Regions from separate parts of the Homo sapiens genome. Here region 2 is linked to region 1. A link means that fine-mapping ties the variant in region 1 to the expression of a gene that starts in the linked region. Tissue or cell type: nucleus accumbens. Region 1 holds a variant in brackets; the other region holds the start of a gene. All regions are shown on one strand. Distances are between the middles of the regions.

Region 1 (8,107 bases):
GGTCGTGGGGATGTGGCGGTCCGAACACGTGGCGCCATCCCGAGAGGCTGGGGGGATCCCTGGGCAGGACACAGGATGGGGGTCCCTGCCCTCTGCCCCCTGCCTCCTTAGCCCAGCCGGGAAAACAGGGTGCAGATCCGGGGAGTCAGACACCGGGGATGGGCTTGGGGGGCGGGTCCTCGGGGCAGAGGGCTCCGGGGGCTGGGGCGTGCGTGCCTGGCCCGGGAGGCGCCCGCCCCCCGCCCGGCTTGGGCATGCTTGGCACGCAGCGCGCGGGCCGGTTCGATCCGTATGCGCGCCGCGTGCGCCCATTGGTATGCGGGAGCCGGCCCGGCGCGGGCGTGAGGCGGGCGCGCTGGCGGGCGGCGCGGGGGAGGCGGCGGCGGGGCACGTCCTCACCCGGAGCGCCAGCCCCGGGCCGGCTAGGGTGGGAGCTGAGGCCTCCAGGTAGGGGAAACTGAGGCATCATCCAGGCCCCCCCCCCCCCAGCTCCTTGCTGGGACCCTGAGCCCTGCACGGATCTCAGTTTCCCTAGAAGGTCTCCCGAGGGCACTAAGCGTTGCCCCTGGCCCCCTCCCGCTGCAGGAGACTCGGGGCTCGGAGCCCGCCTGAGCGAGCCCCCCGGAGATGGCGGCCCCCTATCCCGGCAGTGGCGGCGGAAGCGAGGTCAAATGCGTGGGAGGCCGCGGCGCCAGCGTCCCCTGGGACTTTCTACCCGGGCTGATGGTCAAGGCGCCGTCCGGACCGTGGTGAGCAAAGCCCCGCCCCCCTGGCCGCGGGCCCCCCCCCGGGTCCAATTCACACCCGATGTTCTGTCCCCGTGCCAAGGGGCAGTTCACACCCAGCTCCCTGACCCGCCCCTTAGGGCTAGAAGGTCTTACCTTGAGTTAACTACCGTCCTGAGCCCGGTCCCCTGCGTTCTGCTTCTAGTCCCGGTCCTCAGAATTCACGCCCAACATCTTTAATCTCTCGCCCTTCCTCCTCCTTCCCACCAGAATTGACACTCGAGGTTCTGTCCCTGGGTCGGAGTGTAAAATCCACACTCCGGTCTGCTCCCACCTCCAGAGATGTGGAATCCACTCCCAACGTCCCGTCCCGTTCCCAAGGCCCCGGGAGGCGGGGCTCGCCCCCAGTTCCCAAGCCCCTGAGCCCCGGGGCCCCGCCGACACCTCCTCCGCGCCGCCCGCCCAGCCTGCAGGCGCAGCGCAAGGAGAAGTCCCGGAACGCGGCGCGCTCGCGGCGCGGGAAGGAGAACCTGGAGTTCTTCGAGCTGGCCAAGCTTCTCCCGCTGCCCGGCGCCATCTCCAGCCAGCTGGACAAGGCTTCCATCGTGCGCCTCAGCGTCACCTACCTCCGCCTGCGCCGGTTCGCCGCGCTGGGGGCGCCGCCCTGGGGGCTGAGAGCCGCGGGGCCGCCAGCTGGCCTCGGTGAGTGCTCATGCGCGGGGCGAGGGTCCCGGGGCCCTCCAGGCGGAGTCACTGCAGCCCAGATCCGGGCTGCGGGCCTGCCCTCGCCCAGATGCTTGTCTCTGGAGTCAGCCAGGACCTTTGCGTGTCCCTATCAGGTGGCTTCTGCTCTCCAAGCCTCAGTTTATTAAACTGTCAAATGGGCGCAAGAGGTTGGGAAGATTTCGTGAATTCTGCCCTAAACAAGGCCCTGGCAGTTCTAGTGGTCACTGGTAAATGCTATTCCTATATTTTTATTAGAGGAGAGGAATCATTATTACAACCAAAGAAACTCCCAGCTGCATGAGCGGGACAGAGGGGACTCACCCTGGCTTGGGACGCCCATTCGCTAATGGGCGAGATACCCTGGATCCAGACCTGAGGGGCCCCGGCGGGAACGCAAGGACTGTACAGTCTGAGCCCCCAGTTGGAGGAGCAAGAGGGAGACAGTATGATGTGGCGGATGAGATGGGGAACTTCAGGAAGATGCCCCAGGGTTCCTGTCGCCGCGCAGCCACCTCCCAGCTTTGCAACCCCGGGCAGGTCGCCTCACTTCTCTGTGCCTTAATGTGAAGTGGGAAAAAACGGTCCAACCTCCCCCAGGGGGCTGAGCAGAGAATCAACCAGGTCATATTTGCAAAGTCCCTGGAAGTGCCTAGCTCAGAGCAAGCCACCGCTATGCGGCCAATGCTGTTATCAGCAGTAACCTTGCAGGGCTGCTGGAGGGGTTCGGGGCATGGAGGAGGGGGCGGGGGGGCTGTCGCTTTTGGAGCATCTCCTGCCTGTCTGGCACTTTTCTGAGCGCTGGGATTGAGCAGGAGAAACAATCTAGACAAAAGTCCCTGCCCCGGAGCGGCTGGCATCCTAGTGGCCAAGACGCAATAAAGAAATAGGCAAAGCAATATAATCTAGAATATGTAAAAATATAAACTCTGTAAGATACAGATAAATATCTAAGTTTATTATTATTACTCAGACTTTATTATTGAGACATAGAAGTGCTGTTATGTTATTATTACTTCTATTTTATGTGTTTGTTACAGCTTTGCGGTGATGAGGATAAGGCAGTGTGAGTGGTGTTTATCTGAAGTCTCAGGGCACCCCAGGCTACCCCTGTCCCCACCCCTCCAGGAGAAGAGGGTGTCCTTAGGGTGGGGTTGGAGGGGCTCCAATTCCCCTCCTGCCCCGTCCCAGGGGAAGAGGGGGGAGAGAAAATAGCATTGATTAAGCTCGCAATAAATCACCATTTAAATTTAAATAATCCGGCTTCCCAGGCGGTAATTAGGCGAATTGACTGGCGCGGAGAGAATGCGGCATTAGCGCCGCTGATTACTGTCATTACCGCGAACAACATGTGCGCCGGCGGGGGATAAACATCTTGTCTATTGTCCCCGAGCTGAAGGGGGGGAAAGGGGGGGCTAAGAGAGCCCCGGCGGCGTCCAGCCCCCCATTACCTGGATGAGCATTCCGGGGCTCAGAGGCATCAGGGGCTGGCTGAGGTCACAGCACTGACGTGGCAGAGCATGGACTTAATCGATCCCACCTCGACCACGGTGCCAAGTGGAAGTAGGGTCAGGACAGTGTGGGGGGGCTTGGTACTGCGTGGACTCCTATAGTCCCAAAACTGGGAAATCGGGGGACAGAGGCATTTCTAGCTCTACAGGGTCCCTAACAAGAGGCGAAGCACCTGCTTCCATAGTTCAGAGGAGGAGCTGAGGACAGCATTTTAGCTGAAGCCACAGAGCAGAGCACTGTCAGTCACACTCTCTGAAGGGGAGGGGACTCCCATGCCCTCCTCAGTAATAAGCCGGGCACCATGGCTCACATCCGTAATCCCAGCACTTTGGGGCGCCAAGGTGGGAGGAAAGCTTTGGGCCAGGAGTTCGAGACCAGCCAGGGCAACATAGCAAAACCCTGGGCAATATAACAAAACCATGTCCCTACAAAAATAAAAATATTGGCTGGGCACGGTGGCTCACACCTGTAATCCCAGCACTTTGGGAGGCCAAGGCGGGCAGATCACGAGGTCAGGAGTTCGAGACCATCCTGGCCAACATGGTAAAATCCCATCTCTACTAAAATACAAAAAATTAGCCGGGCGTGGTGGTGTGTGCCTGTAGTCCCAGCTACTCCGGAGGCTAAGGCAGGGGAATCACTTGAACCCAGGAGGCGGAGATTGCAGTGAGCCGAGATCACACCACTGCACTCCAGACTAGTGACAGAGCAAGACTCCATCTCAAAAAATATATAAAAATAAAAATAAATAAATAAATTAGCCAGGTTTGGTGGCACCCGCCTGTAGTCCCTGATACTGAACAGGATGAGGTGGGAGGACTGCTTGAGCTGAGGAGGTCGAGGCTGCAGTGAGCCATGATCATGCCACTACACTCCAGCCTGGGCAACAGAGCAAGACTCAGTATCTAAAATAATAACAATAATAGTAATCATATAGAATGCATGCATCAGACCCTGGGATAAGCCCTGTATACAAAATGACTTTCTTGGCCGGGTGCGGTGGCTCACGCCTGTAATCTCAGCTCTCAGGGAGGCAAGAGGCGGGAGGATAGCTTGAGCCCAGGAGTTCGAGACCTGCCTCGGCAATATAGCGAGACCCCGTTCTCCAGAAAAAGGAAAAACAACAACAACAACAAAAGATAAAATGACTTTCTTTTTCAGAGGGAGGCACTATTATGATTCCCAAGTTACAGAAGTGTGTGCCCAAGGTCGCACAGCTGGGATTCAAACACAGATGACCTTGCCCCAAAGGCCGCCTCTCAACCATCATATGTGGTCTGTAGGTCTACAGGGATGGGTTCTAGGTCTCTGCCTCTCTGGGCCTCAGTCCTCCATCTGTGAAATGGGACAACAGATGTTCAAGTCTAGCCCTGAGCCTCTGAGTCTGGAGAGGAGACCGCCCAAATCTCATGTCAGCATTCCCTATTGCTTTTTTTTTTTTTTTTTGAAACGCAGTTTTGCTCTTGTTGCCCAGGCTGGAGTGCAGTGTTGCAATCTCTGCTCACTGCAATCTCCGCCTCCTGGGTTCAAGCAATTCTCCTGACTCAGCCTCCCGAGTAGCTGGGATTACAGGCGCCTGCCACCGCGCCTGGCTAATTTTTTGTATTTTTAGTAGAGATGGGGTTTC[A/T]CCATGTTGGCCAGGCTGGTCTCGAACTCCTGACCTCCTTATCCTCCCAAAGTGCTGGGATTGCAGGCGTGAGGCGCCGTGCCCGGCTTTTACAGCCTTCTTTCTTCCCATAGCACTTATTGTCATCTGACACTCTCTGTATTTATCTTGTTATTTTGTGTCATTCACCAACAGCCTCTTGGTTGCTGAGCCTGGAGTAGCATCTGGGACACAATGAAGGCTTACTAAATTGTTGAGTGACTGTGGCAGTTGAGGGAAGGAGGGGTGACATCTTTATTTATTTATTTATAGACGGAGTTTTGCTCTTGTTGCCCAGGCTGGAGTGCAATGGCATGATCTCGGCTCACTGCAACCTCCTTCTCCTGGGTTCAAGCGATTCTCCTGCTTCAGCCTCCCTAATAGCTGGGATTACAGGCATGCGCCACCACGCCCAGCTAATTTTGTATTTTTAGTAGAGATGGGGTTTCTCCATGTTGGTCAGGCTGGTCTCAAACTCCTGACCTCAGGTGATCCGCCTGCCGCAGCCTCCCAAAGTGCTGGGATTACAGGTGTGAGCCACCGCACCCAGCCCTTTTTAAATTTTTTTGAAACAGGGTCTTGCTCTGTCGCCCAGGCTGGAATGCAGTGGTGCGATCTTGGCTCACTGCAGCCTCCACCTACTAGGCTCAAGAGTTCCTCTCACTTCAGCCTTCCAAGTAGCCAGGACTACAGGCACACGCCACCACGCCTAGCTACTTTTTGCATTTTTTAAGAGACGAGGTCTCACCATGTTGCCCAGGCTGCTCTCACATTCCTGGGATCAAGTGATTTGCCAACCTTGGCCTCCCAAAGTGTTGGGATTACAGGTATGAGCCACTGTGCCCAGCCAAGGGGTGACTTCTTAGCTCATAGGTCAGGCACATCCTCGCTGAGGAAGTAACGTTTTTTTGTTTTTGTTTTTTGTTTTTTTTGAGACAGAGTCTTGCTCTGTCACCCAGGCTGGAGTGCAGTGGTGCGATCTCAGCTCACTGCAACCTCCACTTCCCAGGTTCAAGCGATTCTCCTGCCTCAGCCTCCCAAGTAGCTGGGTTACAAGCACACGCCACCATGCCCAGCTAATTTTTGTATTTTTAGTAGAGACAGGGTTTCGCCACGTTGGCCAGGCTGGTCTTGAACTCCTGACCTCAGGTGATCCATCCACCTCAGCCTCCCAAAGTGCTGGGGTTACAGGTGTAAGCCACTGGGCCCAGCCAAGGAAGTGATCTTTGAGCTGAGGCTCCAAGGAGGTGTGGGAGCAGCTGTGAGAAAAGCTGGAAGAGAGTGACTCAGCAGAGGGAACAGCAGGTGCAAAGGCCCTGAGGCAGGTGGGGATCAGCTTGCTGGGTGCAGAGCCTCATGCACTGTGGTAGGGGTTTGGCTGTTACCCACAGTGAGAGGGGAGCCACAGAGGTGGTGAGGGCGGAAGTAGGAGCCCAGTGAGGATGAGGACGTGGTGGTCCAGCCAGGGCAGCTAGACTGGGCTGGGGCCATGGGTGGTGGAACACAGGTGACATGGTCAGGTCCAACCCCTGGGACTTGCTTAAAATGCATGTGGGTGTGAGAGACACAGAGGGCGGCCTCCAAGAAACCGCCCGAAAAGGCAGTGGTGCCCTGATGTTATCTGTAGTCATACTGAAAAGAAAAGTGCGGCCGGGGCGGTGGCTCACACCTGTAATCCCAGCACTTTGTGAGGCCGAGGCAGGTGGATCACCTGAGGTCAGGAGTTCAAGACAAGCCTGACCAATATGGTGAAACCCCGTCTCAACTAAAAATACAAAAATTAGCCGGGCATGGTGGTGGTGCCTGTACTCCCAGCTACTTGGGAGGATGAGGCAGGAAAATCACGTGAACCAGGAGGCAGAGGTTGCGGTGAGCTGAGATCCTGCCACTGCACTCTAGCCTGGGTGTCAGTGCTAGATGCCGTCTCAAAAAAAAAAAAAAGAGAGAGAGAGAATGGTGGCATGACTCCCAGTATTAGGCACCTACTGTATGCACTAGCCCATTCAACTCTATCACTGTAGACCCATTTTACAGATGAGGCTGAGGAAAGTAAAGGCAAAGGTGACCCGGCACTGCCCCACCCCATGGTGCTTGCCCCCATGCAGCCCTCAGGCCTGCGGCGCTTTGACGATGGGGCATGTGAGGGACCCCTCTCCCCGACTTCCCTGGGTGATGAAGCCCCAGCCTCTTCTCTCCAGGACCCAGGGTCAGCACATTCCTTCAGGGCAGTTGAGAAGGGCAGGTGACGGGGGAGATCTGGGAACTTGGAAGAGGCCTTGGCTTCTGCCTTCTGCCCCTGGATCCCCCTCTCTCTGCCCCAGGTCCCCCCTCTCTCTGCCCCAGGTCCCCCCACACTCTGCACCCGGTTTCCCCCTCTCTCTGCCCCCTGGGTCCCCCTCTCTCTGCGCCTGGTCTCCCTTCTCTCTGCCCCTGGTCTCCCGTCTCTCTGCCCCTGGTCTCCCGTCTCTCTGCCCCTGGTCTCCCATCTCTCTGCCCCTGTTCTCCCTTCTCTCTGCCCCTGGTCTCCTGTCTGTCTGCCCCTGGTCTCCCTTCTCTCTGCCCCTGGTCTCCCGTCTCTCTGCCCCTGGTCTCCCGTCTCTCTGCCCCTGGTCTCCCGTCTGTCTGCCCCTGGTCTCCCTTCTCTCTGCCCCTGGTCTCCTGTCTGTCTGCCCCTGGTCCCCTTCTCTCTGCCCCTGGTCTCCCGTCTCTCTGCTCCTCGTGCTCCCTCTCTGCGCAAGAGATGAGGACACTGAGCAGGCTGTGATAAGAACCACAGCAAGTGTTTGTTAAATGGATGAGTGATGTTTGGGTTCTGGACATGGGAGGGCGGATGTGGAAGTGGTGAAAAGTCTCCTGCTGAATGTGGGGGACAGAGGAGTGGGGACATTTTGAGGGGAGAGGGAGAGGAGGAAACAGCGGGAGGCATCGGGGAGTTGGTGGGATCGGGAGGTGGAGGCTGGGGGTAAAAAGACACATCAGTCAGTGATCAGGAGACTCTGGGGGTCCCTTTCACAGGGGACCGGACCCGTGTATGGGGAAGAGCAGGTCCCCAAGCCCCCCCACCACCACACCCCCTAATCCCGACGTGCCCATTAATGTTGTTAATTGCAGCGGTTCAGTCTGACCCAGGCTGATCCTGGGAGAGGGAAAATGAAGGAATTAGCAAAAATGACAGGGGAAAATTGCGACAATTAGCAGGCAGCATTGTTCCTGCCTGTCACCCGGCTGGTTCCGAGCTGTATCTTGAGGGAGGGGGTCCCCGTCAACCCCCCAGCCCCCCAGTAATTGTTCCTGGAGCTCCAGGCGGAGGTGGAGGCAGGGAGGAACAGCCAGGAGGGTGTGGGGTACTCCTGGGAGGAGGAAGCTCAGCCCAGACACTAGGGGGCTGGGGAGGCGGGGGCTGCGCGCCCATGGGGGAGGGGCGGGGTTTCGCCGCCTGGTGTTTTGATGGTCGGGTAATAACAATAGTAATCACACTATTAATACCAGTCCCGGCTCTGTG
Region 2 (8,107 bases), 880 kb before region 1:
ATAAAATATGTATTCAAAATTATTTCTGAATAAATAAGTGAATACAAAGGTCAGTTTCCACACCCTGATTTTATTTTATTTAAAAACATACAGTAAGTTGACTGTTTTCTATGCACAACTTAATGGATTTAAACACAGGTATAGATTCATGTAGTCACGATCAAAATCAGGTTACAGAACAGTTCCATCACCCCAAACCCAACCCCAACCCCTGGCATTCACTCTTTCCTATAGTTTTGCCTTTCCTGAGTGTCACAGGAAAGGCTAAGTTGATTCTTACCTATGTAATTGTTGAGACCAACTTCTTGTATCTGACACGGTGCCTTTGAGATCTTGCCAAGTCATGGTGTATGTAAATAGTTCCTTGTCTTTTTATTGCTCAAAAGTTTCCATTGTGTGTGTGTACCACGGTGTGTCTCCCATTTCCCCTGTTGATAGATATTTGAGTTGTTTCCACTTTTTTGCTATTACAAGTAAAATACTATGAACGATTGTGCTTTTTTGGTGGGAACATAAGTTTCATTTCTCTGGGATAAATACACAGGAGTGTGAATGATGGGTTGTATGGTAAATGTATAATTTTATAAAAACAGCCAAAATGTTTTTCGGGGTTATATATATATACCATTTTCATTTCCATCAGTAAAATATGAGAAATTCAGTGTCTTTACTTGCTTGTTAGCACTTGGTATTGTCGATATTCTCTCTCTCTCTCTTTCATATATGTTTGTGTATAATTTCATAATATCTAAATACACATACTCCGGCACTTTTTCACTTACACCCCCAGTGGCCCTCCCTCGTCCAGTCCAACACAGTCAATCCTTGCAACACCCCAAACAGGTTTCCACACGTGACTTACCTACCAGTGAGTGACCCACTCACCAGATTAAAGCCCTCCTTCCAGTAACTCTTAGTTCCTTTCAGGGTTTCTTCTCTCCACCTTCCCATCTTGCTTCCAGCTTCCCTCACTGGTAGAGAATTAAGGACACACTCATATATATGTGTGTGTGTGTGTGTGTGTGTGTGTGTGTGTGTATTTATTTATTTATTTATTTAATATATATATTTAAATTTTGCCAATTCTAGTAGATGGGAGATAGTATCTCACTGGTTTTAATTTGTAGTTCCAGTATGGCTAATGGTGTTGAACAACTTTTCATGTGCTTATTTGCTATCTGTATGTCCTCTTTTGTAAAGCATCTGTTCAGATATTTTGCCGATGCTTAATGATTTTGTTTGTTGTTTCACTTTGAGTTTTGAGAGTTTTTCATATACTCTGGATTCAAGTCCTATGTTAGAGATGTGATTCACAGACACTTTCTGCAGTTGGTAGCCTGTCTGTTGCTTCACTTAACAATTTGTTCATCAAGTTTAACTTTAAAATTTTGATAAGTCCAATCTGTTTTTAAAAAATGGATAATGCTTTTGATGTCTTTTCCCAGATATAAATGTTTTCTCTGATGCCTTCTCCTTGAAATACGTAGTTTTACTTTTCATATCTAGACCATTTGGAGTTAACTTTTGTATAGAGTGTGAGCTTTGGTAGAAGTCTTCTTTTTTTTTTTCATATGCATGCCCATTGTCTCACACCATTTGTTGAAATGACTATCTTTTCCCCCATTGAATTGCCTTTACATCTTTGCCAAAAGACAATTTACTATATTTGTTTGGGTTTATTTCTGGAACCTATTCTGTTCCTTTGATCTATGTGTCTATCCATGTCTATCCATTTGCCAATACTACACTGTTGTCATTACTGTAGCTTGAGTAATTGTGAAATTGGATAGTGTGAGTCCTCTACCATCTTTCCTCATCCAAAATTGTGTTGGCCATTCTAGTTTCCATTGCTTTTCTATATAAATTCTAGAGTTATTTTGTTTCTCTCTCAGACAAATCCTGCTTGGGTTTGATTGGAATTGTGTTAAATCTGTAGATAATTTGGAAAGAATTGGCATCTTACCTAAATTACAGATTCCAAACCACGACATGATATACCACTCTGTATTTAAGGTTTCCTTGAATACTTTAATCGTACACATCCTTTATATGTTCTCCTAGATTTACAGTATACCAGTTCAGTTTTTGGGGAGGGGGGTATTGTAAATGGCATTTTTTTTCTTTAAATTATTGTATCCACTAGTTCTTGCCAGTATAAAGGAATACAATTGACTTCTGTGTGTTTCATACGCTACAACCTTTCTAAATTCACTTATCAGGTCCAGAACTCTTCTACTAACAATGCACTTTTATAAAGCCCTAACACCTCTCCTGATCTCTGTCTCACCCTCCCACCTATCTCACTGTGGGATGGGAAGGAAGTCAATGGAAAACACAGGAGCGCATTCTAATAATAGCCCACATGGTATCCAGTGACACAAATAATAGTGATGGTGACAATAAAATAACAGTAAGAAACACAGAAGGAGCGTTTCCTTGGACAAAGCACTCCAGAAACAACAACAAAAAGGGGCTGCCTTTCCATCTATTCTATGAATCCCAGATGTCTATTTTATCACTGTCTGTTCCTTTTCTGTTCTCCCTGGCAGGGTTTTTACAGCCCCTGCTCTTTTTCTAGATTATGCTGCATCTTCACAGTTTCCCCTAAATGACTCTGAAGAATTATAGACAGTGCTGTCTACAATTATAATAATGGATATGGTGGTCCATTTCCAAGACAAAGTACCTCAGATAGGCTGAGGCCCACAAACTATGGAAGGACAGAATATACTAGGCCCATAGCTGGTGCATGCTTGTCGGGGTCCCCTTAGTTACCCTCTCCCAAACCAGAGTTTAGTCTAGAATGAAAGTTTACTAGCCAGCAAAATAGCTCACTTTATCTATTCTTATCAGCTTGCCTGACTGCCTAGGTCATAAGTCAAATACTTGAAAAGCCCTCGAGCTGGCTTTGATTGCAATGTATTATAGGCTGCAACAAAATGCAGTGAGACAATCCTAAAGAAAACACCTAAAAGCCTCAACCCAGCAACCAATAGGCGACGTCTGGGAAGATCGTGACCCCATCGTACTTAGCCTACGAGGAACCAGGGGAGAGACTTGTGCACTAGGGGATAAATAGCTTGTTGTAACCGTACTGGGTGTGCCTGCCTACCAGACATTCAATCTTGCAAGACCATCATTAAAAGTCTTGCTTCCACTGTTTTCTGTGTCTCTGAGTCCATTCTTTGGGTTTGGACGGGTGCGTTTGTTTCTCATAGTGCAGGTCTGGAGCCGGACTGAGATGGGGAGTAGAGGGACCCCTTGAAACTTCAGGGTGGATGAATATGAAGTTTCATCACCAGCTGTGATGTTTGGTGAGTAGTATGCTCTCAGATAAGTGAGAGCCAAGGAATCTCTTTCAAGTCTCTTTGCCGTGGGCAGAGTTCAAAGAATGACACTCACTCACGGCTTTGAAAGGTTCTAGGGAAGCCTTTACTCTGAGATTTCGAGAGGTCTGAGAAGGTAGCAGTCACTTGGAACAGGTCCAGGAACATCTTACTAAGCTGTTGATGCAGTTTTTTCTTATGCTTTCTGTGGCTTCTCATGCCCCACCCTTTCCAAGAGGCCAGTGCTTCTGGGCACCTCCCTAAATGTGGATAAGTTCATAGCCTACATAAGTCCCTGTATAAAGTCACTGACCCATTTGCACTGCTGCTGTCCCATCAGCTGCTCTGAAGCTCCATGGTGCCCAGAATCTTCGGTAAGGTAACCCTTGCCCCAGGTTGAGCTAATGCCTACTGTTATCCCTAATGTACCTCTGAACCTCAAACTTAATTCTCTCTTCCCTATTTAATTCTTGGTTTCCCACCTCATAATCACCCGTGTCCTCTCTGACTGCATTGCAATCTCTCTTCCCCACCTGCAAATTCCAGAAGCTTAACCCTTTCCAGAGCCCTCCCTGCATTTCCTCACCTGCCAAGCCCAATGCCCAGAACCTGCACACAGAGTCAGTCCCAAAATCTGCTCTGAGCTGTTACAGCAACCAAAGAAACTCAGAGACATCATCTTGTGCCCCATGATCATGATCTGGTGACCCCAGAATCACTGTCATTCTTCTCTCAGCTGATCTTTATTTTTGAACTCCTGGGCTCAGACTCAGAAGGGACCATAGGTGAGAATGGGTGTGGTGAGTGGAGGGAGAAGAAAGGAGGGAGGATTATAGCACTGTGGATAGGGTTGGGGGCTCCCAGAGGTCCCCTGCCAGCTCATCAGCTCTGACTCTTCCAGATATTGGACTGTGGTTGTGCCAGTTGACACTCAGGAGTGGAGACTAGATCTGCAATCTGTTGGGACTGTGATGAGGGGATCATCCTGCCCTCGAACCAGACCCAGCCCTGTAGCCCAGGCACTATTGCCTGGAGTTCCTGGGCTCTCAGCGCCAGGAAATCATGAGGTTCAGTGTCTCAGGCATGAGGACCGACTACCCCAGGAGTGTGCTGGGTAAGTAAGGGCAGCCCAGGCAGTGGACTGAGTTTTGTTGTGTGTATTCCATCAAGATGAGCAATGCCTGCTGTGTTCACTAACTTCTTTTTGGGCAACCATCTCTCTCTCTCCCTCTCTCTCTTCTCTCTCTCTCTCTTCTCTCTCTCTTTCTCTCTCCCTCTCTTTCTCTCTCCCTCTCTTTTCTCTCTCTCCCTTTTCTCTCTCTCTCTCTTTCTCTTTCCCACTCACCCCTCACCCTTTCCACCTCTCCCCCTCTTCCCCTCTCCCCCTCCCCCTCCCCTCCCCATCTCCCTGTGTCCCTCTGTCTCACATCCCCCTCTCTTCTCTTCCCCTCTCCCCTCCCTGTCTTTTCCCTCCTCTCCTTCCTTCTCTTCCTTCCTCTCTCAAGTTGAAGGAAGAGTAGCTCAGTCATCTTCCAGAATTGCTTTTTACCTCCGAGTCACCTGGCTCCATAGCCCCCGACCACCGCATGCCCATTTAGCTGTTCCTCTCTTTCCCCTCTACCCTCACCCTTGGCAACCACCAGTCAGCTTTCTGTCTCTATGGATTTACCTATCTGGGACATTTCATATAAATGGAATCACACCATTTATAAGTGACCTTTCGTGTAACTTTTTTTTTAACTTAATGTTTTCAAGGCATATCCCCATTATAGAATTTATTAGTACTTCATTCCTTTTTACAACTGAATAAATTCAATTGTATCCATGTATCAGCATTCATTTATCCATTCATCTGTTGATGGACACTTGGGCTGTTTCCACCATTTGGCTATTGTGAATAGTGCTGTTACAAACATATGTATACATGTATTTGCTTGAGAACCTGTTTTCAGTTATCTTGGGTGTACACATAGGAGTGGAATTGCTACGCCACATGGTAATTCTGTTTAACTTTTTGAGGAATTGGCAAACTGTTTTCCACAGAGCTGCATCAATTACATTCCCACCAGCAGTGTATGAGGGCTCACATTTCTCTCCAGATTCTTCAACCTTTGTTATTTTCTATTTTCCTGTTTATTACAGTCATCTGGGTGGGTGGGTGTGATATCCTGTGTAGTTTTAATTTGCGTTTCCTTGGTAAATAACAATGCTGAGTGTCTTTTCCATGTGCTTATTGGCCATTTGTATTCCTTTTTGAGAAAAGGTTTATTCAGATTTTTCCATGTTTAAATTGGGTTATTTATTTTATTATTATTTAGTTGTAAGAGTTTTAGAAGATATGCTGGATACTCATCCCTTATCATATATATAATTTGCAAATACTTTCCTCATTATGTGGATTGTGTTCATTTCCTTGATGCTATTGCTTGCAGTGCATAGGTTTTTAATTTTTGATGAAGTCTATTCTTTCTTTTCTCTCTTGTGCTTTTGGTGTAATATCTAAGAAAATATTACCTAACTCGAGGTCATTAAGACTTACTTGTATGTTTTCTGCTAGGAATCTTTTTAAGAAGTTGACAAAGAATAATTGTGTATATTTATGGGGTAAAATATGATGATTTAATGTATGTTTGCCTTGTTAAATGATAAATCAAATTAATTACCATATCTACCACCTAATATACTTATTACTTTTTGTCACTAGAACATTTAAAATATACTCTTCAGCAATTTTGAAATATACAACACACCATTTGTTTTTTTAAGAGGCAGGGTCTCACTCTGATGCCCAGTCTGGAGTGCAGTGGTGTGATCACAGCTCACTGCACCCTCTACCTCTGAGGCTCAAGTGATCCTTCCACCTCAGCTCCCAAGTAGCTGAGACCACAGGCACGCACCACCACACCATGCTAATTTTGTTTTTCATAGAGACGATGTCTCACTGTGTTGCCCAGGCCGGTCTCCAACTTGTAGGCTCAAGCAACCCTCCTCCTTGGCCTCCCAAAGTGCTGGGATTGCAGGTATGAGCCATCACGTCCAGCCCACAATACACTATTATTTATTATAGTCACCGTGCCCTGCAGTGGATCTCTAAAACCTATCTTTCCTGTCTAACTGTAACTTCATATCATTTGCTTATCTCCCTGTTGCCCATCTGCCCACACCAATCCTCTGGTAACTGCCCTTCTCTCTACTTCTATGAGTTCAACTCTTTTAGATTCTACATACAAGTGAGATGGTGTGGTATTTGTCTTTCTGTGGGTTGCTTATTTTACATTTCTGCTAAGAGTTTTATATGTTCGCTCTTGTATTTAGGTCTGTGATACATTTTGAGTTAATCCTTGTGTATGGTATGAGGAAGAGATCCTCTTTCTGCCCACTCTTTTGTGTATGAATATACAGTTTTCCCAGCACCATTTGTTGAAAAATCATTTGTTCCCTTACTTCATAGTCCTAGCACTTTTGTTGAAATTTGATTTCAACAAATCTAAGGGTTTATTTTCTGACTGTTAGTTTTATTCATTGATCTATATGTCTATCCTGTGTGTCAGCTCCTACACTGTCACTATAGCTTTGTGGTAAGCTTTGAAATCATGAAGTATCAATTCTACAATTTTGTTCTTTTTCAAGATCGTTTTAGTTATTCTCGGTCCTTTATGTTTCAATATGAGTTTTAGGATCAACTGATTAATTTCTTCAGAGAAGGCTGGGTCCTGTGGCTCATGCCTGTAATCCCAGCACTTTTGGAGGCCAAGGAAGGTGGATGGCTTGATCTCAGGCGTTAAGAGACCAGCCTGGGCCATATGGTGAGACCACATCTCTACCAAAAAATGCAAAAAATTAGCCAGGCATGCGGTGTGCGTCTGTAGTCCCAGCTACTTGGGAGGCTGAGGTGGGAGGATCACTTAAGCCTGTGAGGCGGAGGTTGCAGTGAGTCATGATCACGCCACTGCACTCCAGCCTGGGTGACAGAGTGACACTTGATCTCACAAAAGTTCTTTGATATGGATTGCATTGATTCTATAGATCAATTTGGGATTTTTGGCACCTGAACAATATTAAGTCTTCCAATTTGCGAACATGGATGTATTTCCATTTATTTACATATTCTTAATTCTTTTCAACAATGTTTTGTTGTTTTTAATGCACAAATCTTGCACCTCTTCTGTTCAATTTATTCATAAGTATTTTATTCTCTTTGGTACGTGGAATTATATTCCTAATTTCATATTTAGATGGTTTTTTACTAGTGTATACAATTGCTTTTTATATGTTGATCTCTTTTATCTTACAATCCTGTTGAATTTTTCTATTAGTCTTTAGGTCATAGTAGCTTCCTTAGGTTTTTTTTTTTTTTTCTTTTTCTTTTTTGAGACAGAATCTCACTCTATCATGCAGGGTGGCGTGCAGTGGTGTGATCATAGCTCAATGCAGCTTCGAACTCCTGGGCTCAAGTAATCCTCCTGCCTCAGCTTCCTGAGCAGCTAGAACTACAGGCATGTGCCACCATCCCTGGCTAATTTTTTTATGTTTTTATTTTTATACAGATGGGGTCTCGCTATGTTGACCAAGCTGGTTTCAAACTTCTGACCTCAAGTGATCCTCCCCACTTGGTCTCCCAAAATGCTGGGATTACAGGAGTGAGCCACTGTGCCTAGTCCTTAGGATTTTTAACATACAAAATCATGTCATTTGCAAATAGAAATCATTTTACTTTATCTTTCTCAGTCTAAATTCATTTTATCTTCTTGCCTAACTTTCATGGCTTGAACCGCCAATGC

Evidence for each region. PIP is the estimated chance that this variant, and not a neighbour inherited with it, causes the effect. A credible set is the group of variants that fine-mapping cannot tell apart.
Region 2: IGFL2 starts here. The variant in region 1 is the best candidate, but not a certain one, in a credible set for the expression of IGFL2 in nucleus accumbens (GTEx, PIP 0.83).

The regions. Positions count from the first base shown.
Region 1 is chr19:47,020,421-47,028,527 of GRCh38, forward strand. It overlaps NPAS1 (neuronal PAS domain protein 1), which reads left to right. Exons shown (of 12, transcript NM_002517.4): 2 at 586-749; 3 at 1,192-1,427. The coding sequence starts at 628. Among named protein-coding and RNA genes, the nearest start is that of NPAS1, 4.6 kb to the left of the region's middle. The variant A/T (reference allele first, on the strand shown) is at 4,588.
Region 2 is chr19:46,144,598-46,152,704 of GRCh38, forward strand. IGFL2 (IGF like family member 2) reads left to right here and starts at 3,641. Exons shown (of 4, transcript NM_001135113.2): 1 at 3,641-3,700. The coding sequence starts at 3,682.